Regions from separate parts of the Homo sapiens genome. Here region 2 is linked to region 1. Evidence: fine-mapped expression QTL. Tissue or cell type: subcutaneous fat. Region 1 holds a variant in brackets; the other region holds the start of a gene. All regions are shown on one strand. Distances are between the middles of the regions.

Evidence for each region. PIP is the estimated chance that this variant, and not a neighbour inherited with it, causes the effect.
Region 2: CDO1 starts here. The variant in region 1 is fine-mapped to the expression of CDO1 in subcutaneous fat (GTEx, PIP above 0.99). The same link has a PIP of 0.9 or more in esophagus muscle, gastroesophageal junction and visceral fat.

The regions. Positions count from the first base shown.
Region 1 is chr5:115,731,849-115,740,056 of GRCh38, forward strand. It overlaps LOC124901048 (a long non-coding RNA gene), which reads left to right and starts at 7,196. Exons shown (of 2, transcript XR_007058907.1): 1 at 7,196-7,266. The variant G/C (reference allele first, on the strand shown) is at 3,963.
Region 2 is chr5:115,814,706-115,821,309 of GRCh38, forward strand. CDO1 (cysteine dioxygenase type 1) reads right to left here and starts at 1,954. Exons shown (of 5, transcript NM_001801.3): 1 at 1,523-1,954. The coding sequence starts at 1,692. LOC124901049 (a long non-coding RNA gene) reads left to right here and starts at 2,383. Exons shown (of 2, transcript XR_007058908.1): 1 at 2,383-2,466.

The DNA of each region.
Region 1 (8,208 bases):
CAAACCAGTCCAGGTGTCAACAGTGATGGCATATTGAAATTCAAGGACTTAGACATAGATATGATACATACACAAACAGTCTAAGGTCAGTCTTCAAATATCTACCTAGGTAATCATGTAGGTAACCATAATCAAATTGCAACTTTTTACTGGCTGAGGGAGGGCTGGAATTTGATCATCCATTCTTATTGACTGATAGCATATGATGCTGCTAACCATATCAACACATGAATTGATAATATCTATTTCATATTGCCACAACTTAAGCTATATCTTGTTGAAACTCCTGAAAACTACAGACATTCTTAAAAAAAAAAAAAAAAGGCTCCTATTACCCTCAGGGACTCTGGGAAATCAGCCCAATAGGATGATTTGCCAGGTCCTATAAATATTTACCAAGATGGCATTAGATAAAAGAAAGTTACAAAATAATTTGCATTGGGAGTTGTTACTTCAGCTGCATAAGCCTAAGACTCTACCACCCTAAAATAAAGTAGCCTTTTTCTTTTTAAAGACAGACTACAAAAAATGTAACTCACTTTATAATAGTTTTCCTAATATTCTCAAGGTATCAAAACCCTCCAAATATATTTTTAGGGTGTAAAATAAAATGGAAAAGAGGTACTATTCTTGGAGGCTATATATGGGGTCTTCCCTGTCTTCTGTCATGTACTTTCTTGTATTATTGTTAGTCAAGCAAATTACACCATTATATTACTTTTCGAATATAAGTTTTCTGCAAAAATATTTGTAAGCCTGTCATTGCATAATAATGATGATATTGGGGAGGAATAATATAATGATACACATGACTTTTTTCCAATATAGATGGTGAGTCTTCTAGCATTTACTTTAATATCTCTCATGTATTGAATGACAGTTGTACTTCAAGTTGTATAAGACACTTTATTTACATATATAATCTTATTAAGTCCTCCCAACAATCCTAAAACTGTGTTAATATCTATTTTTTTTACAAATGAGGAAACTGAGATGCACAGAAAGATAAGTGGCAGATCTGACTTCTGTCTTCCAAGAGTATGTTCCTTCCACTTCCTTGCCTCATTCAGGGATGTATTACTAGTTATCTTAATTTTTATAGTTCGTTAACTGTGCTTCAGCGTCTCATTTTGAAATATCTGGAGTGAAAGGTATGAGCTCTCTATTTTGCAAGGCAGAATCCCATCTTTTGTATTAGTAAGGTGTAGATCTTTAAGGAGGGGATGGACACCACCTCCCAGCTCCCCTGGACTTCTTGGCACCATTCTTCCCTCCAGTACATTTGCTCTCAGCTCCTTTCCTCCTTTACCTTCCAGTTACTACAGAGCCATACAAATCACCTATGACTATACCTGATCATCTTTTCTTTCCTTTTCAGTCTTATTAAGCAAATAGGTAGTTTTCACAAGAGCAAATCTGGAAAAATTTAACAATAATCGCAGAGACTGGCTGTAGTCTGCCACAGCCCTGGGTAATCAGCACATTTAACAATCACTCTCATGAGATATCACTGAAAGGAAACCCGAGCTTTGTCTCCCACTCTCCCTTTAAAATTTACTTCCTCTGAATGAAATCCTCCATGTTGCATGACTTTTCTGCTCACTCTTCTGAAATAGTCCTAGGGCACTTTATGTCACAAAACAGTCTCCATCCAGTAATGAGAATGCCCACTCCAATGTAACATACAAAACTCTTTCTTTGATTGTTAATTTTTTTTTTTTCATCTCCTAGCAAGGCCAGGATTTAGGGGAGAGTGGTGGCTTTCTCTCTTTCTCTCTCTCTCTCCCCGCCCCTTTCTCTCAGTGTCTCCTCTCAAACCTGCTAAGCACAAACCTCAGGCCCCTAGGGTTGGAGGGCAGAAAGGAAAGGAGTACAGAAAGTTCTTTCTTCACTGGTGTCATTCTAAAAAGTTTTGCACGATCAGGCATGGAAGATGTTTAAAACTGGTTCCCCCACAGGGACTACTGTGGGTTCTTTGGCAGTTCCCTTGATAGGTTCCTCCTACTGCAACTCTGTTTGAGAAACCAGTTCTCTAACAGTTGAACAGTTTGCATTTTGATCTGCCTCACTAACTCCTTTTAATAGTTATCCTATCTCAGAGCCTCAGTCAAGATTTCCCATTTAACATTTGCCACCATGTTCATCCTGTATATTATGGATCGCCGTTTGTTTGGTGGCTATGAGTGCAGACAATATTCCTTTTCAGCCAGTAAAACTATAAATGGAAAACATTAGCTGGCCTTTGTTACAGTACTGAAAACTTTTCTCATAATTAGTTTTCATTCAAAATTTAATTTTAACTTCAACTTGAAAATGAGGTATACTACCTCTTCTACAGGTAGTAATTCTTTTTTCAATTTGTTGTACATTTTGGTGGTTTTCAATAAATAGGCATTCTTAGCTCTGGTCATCCCATGCCTAAAATTGAAATCAATATTCTCCCCCAGCTGATGAAAATTTTCATCACGATTTACGTTTTTCTGTGTAAAAATGAAAAAGAGAGCGTGAATTAACATTCCTAATTCCCAGAAGGTATGCATTCTAACTGAAGATTACCCTGTACCATTTTTAGTCCATATCATTCATGTTGTTGATGGACACAATACAGATTCACTGTAGTCATGCGTTTTTAAATAACAGTAGCATGTTAATTGTTAAACATCCTAGTCCTTTTTTCTGTCTCTCATTCCACCCTCAGGATCATATCAGACATTCTTATGGCAACTACACCAGCATGGCAAAGACTAGAGTGAGGGAGTAAGGTATCCAGGACACAAAATTTAAGGAGGCACTCACTCTCATGGTCATACAAGCTAAGTGCCCCTTCAATTTTGCACCCTTGGTGCCTCACTCATCTCACATTAGTCCTATGCCTGGGTATCAGACCTGCATTGCTTCACATTCATCCAATAATATTCTTGAGTACCTTCTGTGGACCAAACAGTGTTCTTGGTGCTGGATGTCCAGAAGAGGAGCAATCAGTTACAAATTCCTGCTCTCAGTATTGGATAACAATTAAGTGTTGTGCTATGGAGAAAGAGAAAGCAAAGAAGGAGAAAAAGGATGTGCCAGGGTGGGGTCGGGGTTGTCAACCAAAACAGTGTTCAGGGGAAATCCTCACTGAGAAGTCAACATTTGGGCAAAGAACTGAAGGAGGTGAAATGTTTTTGAAAACTTGACGAAGTGTTCACAAAATGTTAATGAATTTGCTACCAGTAATTTGTAATAAATAAATTTCATGTAACTATCTGACTTCTCTTGACAAATCCGAAGACCTGGCAAGACAGAGCCACATTTCTGTATGACAACAACTAGATGGAGCTGAGGGAGGCTCTCCACTTTAAACCAAGCCAGGGCCTTTATATTGGGCAAGGGTTCTCCAGTTCCCAAAGTCTCCCTCTCCCTGCCTCACTCAATTTCATCACTTGTTTATTCCCTGTAGACCTTTGAGCTTGCACACTCTGGCTAGAATCCTTCAGAGAAGAGAGACCTCAAATGCTGCCACTCTCCCTTCAAGCAGCCACTCATGGTCATGGTGCTATTGCAAAGAGATGGTCTCCTTACCACACCACAGTGAAGTCACTCTACTACAAGGCAAGAAAGGCCTTGATTCCAGACTCCAGAGATGAGTGATCTTTATTTAGCTGCTTGAAGCTGAGGGGAGACAGATACTATTGAGCTGTTTTCTTGCACAGTGATTGAGATTACCCGAACATTGTAAAAACCCTGCTATCCTAGTCCACACATGTTCTATCTTTCAACCAGAGCAGCAAAAGAAAAATATCAATTCTGAGATGCTCAAGGCATAATTTTCTGTCTCAGCAAAATTTCAAGACAACAAGCTGTCACGGGCATTGGAACCCCACCGACCTGCTGGCACATACGGAGGACAGGAATTTTCCACTTGAATGAACTGCCCGTACTGTTCACCGAAACTCCCCTGAGGAAGAGATCTGTGGTGG[G/C]AGGGAGTGCTGGCAAAGAGACTGCTGTGAAGTGTAGACAGAAGCACCATTCCCTACAAGGCTGAGAGAGTCAAAGGCAGGTTGCCATAGCTACTATTGTTTAGCCTTTCCATGGCATATTTTTTTCTGCAACTATTTGCCTAAATTATAGCAATATTTTAAACTGAAGCCAAGTAGGTGAGAATGAGTTAAGATTTCTCAACTTCAACTTATGTAAAAAATCTCAACTGTGAAATTGCATCAAACCAGTTGTGTTGTAAAATGAAAATAGGTGGGAGCACTGTGACTTCCAAGAAGACATGGGGTGAGTGTGTGTTTGACAAACAGTGTGAGATTCTGATATTTCAATCAACTCCCTACATTTGCACTGGATTAAAGAAATTTCTCAAACCCCGTCTACTCTACAGAGTACTTTATGTCTCAGCTTTATTGCACAATCAGTTATAAGAAAAATAAAGGGAAAAAGAAGTATGTTTTCAAGCTTAACTCCAAGTGAGTAATGGAAAATTGAACTTTCATGTTAGTAAAAATGAAAACCATGGTTTAAAAGTTACAATAATTTTAAAAATGACTTTTCAAATAGCAATTGGGTCATTCATTTGACTTAATACTAAATTTACATCAATTGAAGGGAATTTTGTTTTACGGTAATCCTAAGAAAATTTTGAAACAAGAGACATTTCTCTTTGGTGTACAAGATTTCTCTTTTCTGTACTTTTCCTTCACCTCTAGCAGGTTCTCCTATATACTGCCAACACACAGTTTCCAGTAATTATGCTCTTACCCACACATATTTAAATATGGGTTGATGGGTAGACATAAGAACGTTATGTTCTTTAAAAAGCTCTGGTTAAAAGATTGTTGCTGCTTTTAAGAACACAAAGAAAAAAGTGTGAAGGGAAGAATGGCTGTATCGCCTTCACAAATTCTTATGATGTTTCTCCTTTTAAGCAAAGTTTTCAAAGGATGCCAATCATTTGTTAATGAAAGCTCTTTGTGGTTTTCTTTTGCAAATCAAACATTAAGCAGCAGCATCTGGCCTGCAGATTGTTCTAAAATTTTGGTACCTTTTTGTCACACCCATGGCAACAGTAGAGATGCTTTGCAATTCTGTATTCTTGTGATATCCTGAATACACAGAAGCTCTAATTATGTAGTAGACCTGACCTTACAAAAGGAAAAACTGAATAAATTGTACTTTTATTTTCCATAAAACAACTCTTCAGAGTTCTTTTTACCTTGCACCCCTTTCATTCTTTTTTGTTTACCTGTAAAACAAGTTTGCAAATGACTATTTGCCCACACACATAGCATGAATGCTAAATTAATATTATTTGCAGGAAAACTTCATTTTCGTATGGACTTCCATGCTAAAGGAGCCACAGGTGAGAGAGAGAGATTATCTAAAAATATGACTTAAGATTCAATAAAGCCATTTAACATGAACATTTTTTAAAGGCTTGAAGAAATTATTTTGGGTAAAGTCTCTTTCCAGTGCCCCAGAAACTATGACCACAGGCAATGGATTATGCTGCATTTGCTGAGGCTGACCCCGTTCACCTGCTTTCCTTCCATGAATTATTATTGAGGTATAGCAATGGTTTTGGGTGGTCCAAAAATAGGACACTAGGCCAGCCCCCGTCCTCAAGGTTATGTAGTAAGAAAACAACCATCTTTCCTCCACTTTCTGTGACCATCCTCCTCTGCCTCAGAATTCCTCTGACTTCATTTTCATTCCCTGCATCCTCCTTCCTTCTGGCAGAGGCAGAAGCTTCTCTTTTCCTGGTCTGAATAATCCTTATCCCCACATCCCCCTCCTGCCTTGACTCCTAATTCCATCCACTTCCTTTCTTCATCAACTTTCTTTTCTCCTTTTGAATGTCTTTCTCTCCTCCTGTCCCTTTCTTTCTGACTAAAAGCCTATGCGCATCATCCCTATTCTGAAAAACCCTTCTTTACAATGTATTGTCACCTCAAGTTACTACTCCAGCAACTTTCTTTCCCTACCAATCACCCTGTTAACAGAAAATCCTTAGCCAAATTAAATTAACAGAGTTTAATTAGACAAAGAACAATTCATGAATCAGGAAGCCTCTTGAACCAGAATAGGCTCAGAGAGATCCCAGCATAGCCACATGGTAGAAAAAGATTTATGGACAGAAAATGGAAAGTGACTTATGGAAAGTGACTTACAGAAAAGAGAAGTGAGGTACAGAAATAGCCAGATTGGTTACAGCTCAGCATTTGCCTTATCTGAACATAGTTTAAACAGTTGGCCCCCTTTTATTGGCCAAAACTGGGTGATTGGCACAAAAGTAGGTTATAGCCTATTTACATCTCCGTTTAAGTTATAGTTCACTATGTACAGAGAAACCTTTAGGCTGAACTTAAAATATGTGAGGAGGTAGTTTTAGACTAAACCTGATTTAAAAATTTTCCCCTTTTGGTCATCGTCTCTCAATTTTGGGAGATTGACCAAAACTTTAGTCATTGATGTCACTATCACCATTGTAAATGTGAGTATTTGGTCTCGAAATCCCCTAGGAAATAGCAGAACAGTGGGATTTGTAAGGTGGGAACAAGAACTTCAGGTTATATTTTTGTAAGGGTTAGAGTAGAGGGTACTTTCTTATGCTGAAATGTCCTGTTTACAGGAGAAAAACAAGACCTGGTCTCCTCTGGAATCTATTTCTTTAAAGCCTTAGTTTGATTATATCACATTTAGCATGAGTGTCTATTTTGGTTTGGTCTGATCTGTTGGGGCCTATTGCATGAGCTCAATCCAAAACAATGGCCTCCCATAATTTTGTTTAAAAAATTCTTCCCTTCTGGTCAAGTTCTCATTTAGTTGAGAGTATGACCAAAACTTAGGGCCTTAGTGCCACTCTTACTGTCATTTTGGGTTTTCAGTGTCAGCATATCATTCATAGGTTCCAGTGCCCTCATGGTCACACATTTCTTTCAGCTCGTCATTCCAGTTGAAAAGAGACAATTTGACATTCTAGAGATGGCTGCGTGCAAACATTTAAGGCTTTTAAGAGAATACAACACACCAGGGAGACTACTATGACTATCAGCAGAATAATACCAAGGGTTTGGAGTATGCTCTTTAGCTGGGATACCCATTAACCAAAGCAACTAAAATTAAACAGATCAAAGAATGAGCTGGGTAAACAGTCTATTTACTTTAACCAAGCAGTCTGTTCATTAATCCTCTATGACTGAATCCCCATAGTATACAATTTATTTCTCCATGGGCAACAAGACATGCCAGCAACTGCACGGCTACTTCTCCATTTAGCCAGTAAGTAATCTAGAGCAATTTTAATATTTAGCATAACTTTCACAACAGAATTTAAAGTCTGTTGTGTAACCACAGCCTTTACTATAGAATCTGCTAGAGATGCTATCATGAGAGATTAATTTTTAATCATTACCTAATTTACTCTAAATCATGAAAAAGAAGACCTAAAAATGACGCTCATCCAAAAGAATGAAGACGTCCTGGCAATTTTCTCTCTCTCTCTCTCTTTTTTTTTTTCTTGACAGGGTCTTGCTCGGTCACACAGGCTGGAGTGCAGTGGCACAATCTCGGCTCATTGCCACCTCTGTCTCCCAGGCTCAAGCAATCCTCCCAGCTCAGCCTCCTGAGTAGCTGGGACTACAGATGCATGCCACCGTGCCCGGCTAATTTTTGGTTAGAGACTGGATTTCACCATGTTGCCCAGGCTAGTCTAAAACTCCTGAGCTCAAGCAATCTGCTCACTTCAGCCTCCCAAAGTGCTGGGATTACAGGTGTGAGACACCACACCTGGCCTGACAATGTTCTCTTTAACCCATGATGTAGTTTAAGAGGAGCGGACCAAAGTTTCATTTCTGACTGATTATTAGGCAACAAATATGCCGTTAAAATTTCTTACCTACATTGTTCCTTCATCTTGCATCTATCGCAACATGAGCTTGTCCGTGTATAAGGCTGGCTGCAAAATCTTTCATAAATAGGAGTATACCCCATGAATACACACAACAGACCCCCTTTTCATTTCCATTGTTCACAGAGGCATAAGCACACATTGAAAGATACGAGTCTCATGATAGCAGAGAACTCTCAATCTGTGATTTTGGAAGAAAGCTGTCCACATCACGGATGCAATGCTTCTGGGAAGAAACTTCTCTGATTAGCTTTACTTTAAGGTTTCTAATGGGTGTACAGTTCCAAGAGTGTGGAGGGCCCTTCTGAGTTGTG
Region 2 (6,604 bases), 82 kb after region 1:
TAAAAACTGTTACAACCTGTCCTGGTTTAACAGTGGTTTAGAGTGTAGGCTCTGGAACAACAATGCTAACCCCGGGAGCCTGGAGCCGCTATCGATAGAAGACCTAGTGCAAGTCATTCAACTTCTTCATTGCCTGCCATTCCTCATATGTGTCAAGTGTCTGGAAGAGTACCTGTCCCATAACAAGTCTTCAATTACCTGGAGCAAATGCAAGAAAATTTAAAAGCTAGACTCTCTGCTAGCTTTCACGGCTACAGAAGGGCTCTACCATGAACTAAGCTGATAGGAGCCAAAGGAATTTCCTCAAGTCACTTGTATATGAAAAATGGGATCCTTAGTGGTCTTCACTTTTTCTATTTCAAATCCTAAAATACAGTTGAAACCGCCCATGCCAACAAAACTTTACGAAACATCCCACATGTTGAAGAGTGACTAAAAGAACCTGCTCCCAAGAAAAACAAACTTACTTCTTTCCTTATTCTTTTCTTTCACTTACCCCTTTCTCCTAACCCTAAACCCAAAAAACCACAAAGACTGACGCACTAACTGCTCAGAAAAAGTAGAACCTCTCACACTTCGGGGTGATTAAATTTTACCTCTGGCCCCGGAGGATTGGTAGAGAGATTCGACTTAATCACCAAGCCGGGGCTGCAAAAAAGCCAGCTTACCAGGGCACCTCACTCAAGTACATCTGGGAAGTAGGGGTCTTTAATTTACATTACAGATCGTCAGAAGCAAGGATAAGATAAATCAGATCATTTGGGGGCTGAAAAAAACGACGGTCGAATATTTAATCTGCGAAACTTGGCAGTGGATTTGAATAAACCCACAGTCGGGGAAGTTAGTTAAATTGGTTTGGGAAAGGGAACAGCAGAAATTCCGTAGTGGCAGCTGACGGCCACAAGACGCTATTTTACATGAGTAAAAATGCTTGCTATAAGGTGCCCGGTTGCAGGCGACCGAAGGCGCAGTGATGGAGAACTGACGCGGGTGACTTGTCTTCTTCAACATCACACACTTCTCCCGATGGCTGATGTAGTGCTCCCCTGGGAGCACCCTCTGCTAGTCCGGCCAGACGGTTCCTTAAGGTGTCAGGAGGGCCCGAACCTGAGTGCGGTCTCTCCGCATCTCCGCGCCCGGGGTTAACGATGGCTTGGGAGTGTGGGCATTGCTCCCGAGGCCAGGGGCAGGAGGACTGGTGGTTTAGAAGCAGAGGGGTTTGCGGGAGAGAAGAGAACAGAAAATCTCGCAGACGCGCGGTGGCCTCCCTTCCCGGCGCCTGTCCGCCGTTCCCGGCCGGAGGTCAGCAAGGCCAGTAGGATCCACCTTCCGCCTGCGCTGTGGCCGCGGAGCCCCAAGCGAGTCGTGCCAGCCCCGCGGCTGGCCAGCGAGGGGGCGAGCGGCGGACGCAGCGCGGCCCGAGCTTCCCGAGCCAGTCACTTTGGGCTGCGTCCCCCACGTCCATTCCTCCTCAGACGGGGCGAGTGGGCGCCGCCTGGCATTGAAGCTGCAGCGCGCTCACCTGTACTGGTCGAACTTGGCGTACATTGCCCACTCGGTGGGGTCGCTCTCGTAGGCTTCCATGATGGCCTGCACCTCCTCTACATTGACCTCATCGCCGGCAAAGAGCTGGTGCAGGATGCGGATCAGATCAGCCAGGGTCCGTGGCTTCAGCACTTCGGTCTGTTCCATCTCGTGGGGAGCTGGCTGCGCGCGCGTCTCACTGCTGGGCTGCGGTGGAGGAGCTGAGCGAGCCAAGGAGCTGGGGGCGAGGGAGCCTAACAGCCCGCTAGACCGCTAAGCAGACACACACGCACAAACCCAGCATTAGAGTGCCGAAACGTAAGGATGTCGTCGCAGAGACAGCAAGAGACCCACCCCCAGGCCCCTGGCAGCGCAGTGGATCCGGGATCGCTGGAGACGCGGTGCACACACAAATCAGGTTCAGATCTGTGGGGTTCATCCTCCCGGGCCCCTTTTAAGCGCTTGGAGTCACTAGGAATGTACCAACGGCCCTCGGAGGGAGGACGAGGCGGAGAGCCACCCAAGAAAGGTGGCGGAGGCGGGGAGACCCTGCGGGCACGGCTCACGCGCACATCCCCGGCTTCCCCGGGCTCCGCGCCTTCCCAAGAGCCCCGTTGTCTCCGGCGTCCCAGGGATCGCGTGGGCTCCGCGCAATCTCTCCCCCACTTTAACGGCGCGTTTTAGCCGCCCGGCCTAACGCCTCTCCCCGCTCCACCTCCGCCGCTGTGGTTCGCGACGCTGGGACGTAGACAAAAAGGGTCGGAGGAGATGGCTGCGGGGACTGACGCTGAGTAAAGGAGGAAAAGAAAAGGGAAGGAGAGGGACACTTCTTCCAAATAGAGAATTGTGAGGAGCCTGCGAAAATTGAGGATGGATTCCACTCCTAGGCCAGAGAGTGCCTGTTTTGTCGATTGAAACTATCCACGATATGCCCCAGGCTAGGTGAAAATAAGTCCAAGACTTTATATATATATATATTTAAGTATACACACACACATATTTTTTAAAATGCGTACTGAAATATATTTTGACAAAGGAGACTCGGGTCTCTAGTAAGACAATTAGTGAAATGATGGAAAACCAAGAACTCTTTGATTTTAAAATCAAATATTTTCTTTTAAAAAATATCCAGTGCAAATAACCTGATATTTCATTTGATGGTGTAAAAGGGGGCTTTTTCTGAGGGGATAGGGCGGGCTCTGACGCAATAATTTAAGAGGCTATAATTATATTTGAATCTTTCAACCTTAGGCATGTGCTTGAAGGAGCCTGCTAGTACATACATATAAGGAAACACGTTTCTACGTCATGCATAGCACCTAGTACGTTGGGAACAACACAAATCAAGTACAGTAGGATTTAAATGAGAAAGATGTGAAAGGTGGAAGAAATGCAAGTGTAGATTTCTTCCTTCTCATTATGGATGGACGCAGGGAATAATTTGGATTTAAGGTTATTAAAGTTCTAGACTTCTGAAGACCTGTTTTTTTCTAGACTATGATCACCCTCCCTCGTGTATATACATGTATACAATGAAATTTACTTGTGCCAGGTAGTCTTAAACATCTCTGGTAAAACTCGCTACATTATATTCTAACAGTGTTGTTAAAAGCGGAATCACCTATTGTTCAAAAATGGCTACAAGTAGAAAGCATTCCAGAAGCCAGCCTTGGTGATGTGTGTTGCTGCGGGGTAGTGAATTAACAAAGTATTTTGTGACAGAGTAACCTGTAAACTTTTCATGGTTTCCTCAAATTATTTTTTATTCTTGGCAATGTTTTCTATTGAGTCTCTTAATTACTTCATTTCAGCTAGTCTAATCCATAAATGTTTGGAATGAACAACAAAAATGAAATGCAAGCACAATTTATCTTTTCTGCATTTCAGTTGATAAAACTTCTAAATTTTTCTGACAATTCATTTTCTTTCTCTGACTCCTCTTTTTCTTTTTACATTTTTATGAAAGTAATATATTCACGTAGTTAAAAAAAATCAATAGTACTGGAAGGTCAATGAAAAGCAGCAGGCCCTTTTAACCATTCCTGACCATCTGTCCTGTGCTTAAAGAGTCAGTCTCTTAACTCTTCTAACTATTCCTTGTGGTAGTTACTTCCTTTTTCCAAAAATAGGCTTATATTTTTTTTTGTTTCAGCAATTTTAGATATTATCTAGTCATTTTACATTATGATAGCTCCATTCGTTTATTATTCATTCATTAATTTATTCAACAAATGTTTTTTCGGGTGAATAGAAATTTTCATTTCACCTGAGTAAATACCTAGGAGTGAGATTGCTGGGCCATTTAGTCAGTGCATGTTTAAATTTGCAAGAAATTGACATACTAATTTGCAAAGGGTCTGTGCCATTTCACATTCTCAACAGTGATGTATGAGTTCTAGTTGCCCCGCATCCTCGCCAGGTATTGTCAGTTTTACCAATTTTGGCCAAATAGAGGTGTGCTGATATTGCATTGTGTTCTTCATTTTCTATATCTCTAATTCTTATGGGCAGGTCTTTGTTCTTAGAGCTCCCAAGATGGTGGCCACCGCTCCCAGGATGGCAGCAAGCCTTTTGTTCTCTGAACTGGGGTTCTTGGCCTCATGGATTCCAAGGAATGGAACCTTGGACCATGCGGTGAGTGTTATAGCTCTATTAGAAGCCGTGGGTCACAGAAGAGAACCGTGGAACCCAGCTACTAGTGTTCAGCTCAAATAGGACGAACCCGGGCACTTAGCCATGCAGGAACAATGGCAAGCCTTTAGCCGGATCGGGAGTGGCAATGGGTGCCTCGCTGGATCAGCAAAGCAGCGGACACCCTGCCGGATCTGGAGGGGTGGAAGTCGGTGGCGGGTCTGTGACAGTGGCAAACAGCAGTGGTGAAAAGCGAGCGAAAGCTCAGCTCGAGCCATAACAAACACAGACCAGAAGAGTGTGCAGTTGCTAGATTTAATAGAGTGAAAACACAGCTCCCATACAATGCGACGGCACGCAAAGAGGGTTGCCACTCCCTGCTTTAATGCCTGGGTTTATATCCGGATCATTGTCCCTCCCCCATGCTCTCAGGCGATATATTATTTGACTATTTCTTTACCTCCTGCTTTAGCCTAATTTGTATTTTAGTGAGCCCTCTTTACTGCCTGATTGGTTGGGTGTGAGCTGAGTTACAAGCCCCGTGTTTAAAAGTAGTTGCAGTCACCTTTCCCAGCTAGGGCTTAGGAATTCTTAGTCGGCCTAGGAAATCCAGCTTGTCCTGTCTCTCATAATGACTAATGATGTTGAGCATATTTTTATGTGATTAGTTATTTGTAAATAATTTTTGGTGAAATATCCAAGTATTTTGTCCTTTTAAAAACTTAATTATCTGTTCTTATTGTTGAGTTTTAAGAGTTTATTATATATTCTAGAAACAAGTCAGATGTGTGATTTGTATATATTTCCTCCCAGTCTGTGACTGGTCTTTTGTTTGTTTTTTTGGACAAAGGTCTTGCTGTGTCACTGAGGCTGGAGTGCAGTGGAGCCATTGGCTCACTGCAGCTTTCAACACCTGAGCTCAGGCAAGCCTACTGCCTACGCCTACTGAGTGGCAGGGACTACAGGCGTGCACCACCACACTTGGCTGATTTTTTATTTTTTTGTAGAGATGTGGTCTTGTTATGTTGCACAGGCTGGGCTTGAACTACTAGGCTTAAGTGATCTTCCTGCCTCAGCCTCCTGAAGTGTTGAGATTATAGGCATGAGCTACTGTACCTACCCTCTTTTCAACTTTTTAGATTCAGGGGTTACATGTGCAGGTTACCTGGGTATATTGTGTGATGCTGAGGTTTCTGGTACAAATGTTATTGTCACCTAGGTACTGAGCATAGTATCCAACAGTTTCAACCCTTTTTCTCCTCCATCCTCCCTCTAGTTATCCCCAGTGTCTATTGTTGCCATCTTTATGCCCATCTGACTCCACCTCTTGACCTTCAAAGACCTCAAGGAACTTTCTTAATATACTGATATTGACACATTTTTATTGTTTCTTCTCTCAACTTCCTCCCTTCCCTCACACTCAGGATTTCATTGATTGTCTGTATGTGGATGCCACCCACATTCCCTTAGTTTTACATGCAGACTGCAATCTCCAACACCTTTTGGCACCTCCGATGCAGTATGTGTGAAACTCCTTTCAAGAATGCTCTTCCAAACTCCTAAAGGTTCTATTTCTGCAATGAGGCACCCAGGCTCAAAAACCTCATCCACTGCTGCCTACTCCTTCCTTGCATCATTATCCAGACCCCATTCAACCAATTGCCAAGTTTTGTATCTCCTTATCATTTTCTCTACTTTGTATTCTTATTGCTATTCCACTATTCAAACCTCTATTTGATTTTGGCTGGATTATGGCACTGGCCTCTGAAATGGATTCCTTGGTTCCAGCTTTCTCCCATATGTATCCTTTATTCACAATTGCTTGATTTCTTAGCCTAAAGCACAGAACTGATGATGTTGTTTCCTGGTCACATTCTTCCAATAACTCTAACTTTCCTATACAATAGGTCTTATCAGGCTGGCATTAATTTTTTTTTCATATTTTGGCTGTAAACTACCTTTCTTGATATTTCGCCTTTTATTATTTTTCTTTATGAATATATCTTTCAGCCAAATTGAATGTGCTTACCAAATCCATTCTTTTGCTTAAGCTTTTCCTTCTGCTTAAATCCTAGCCAGCCATTTCAACATGTCCCAATCTTATTTTAAGATCCAGCTTTTACTTTCCTGTCAAATGTGCCATTTCTCCTCCTCCTGAACAATGGAACAATCACTATCTTCCTTAAGGCACTTACCATTTCTCAGCATGTATTGCAATTACTTACGTGGATCACTTTGACAGTGAGAACCTTTAAGACAGGCTCCTCTTAAATTTTATTTTTATATCACCATCAGGGCCTAGCACACAGTATTTTGTGCAGGTTAGGCACAAATAGAAATATTTCTTAAGTGCATGCATAAATGAAATTAGTAAAAGCATATTGGCTAGAGTTCCTCAATACTAGAGTTATTGGCTAGTAAAAGCATTCGTCTAGTTCCTCATTCCTCT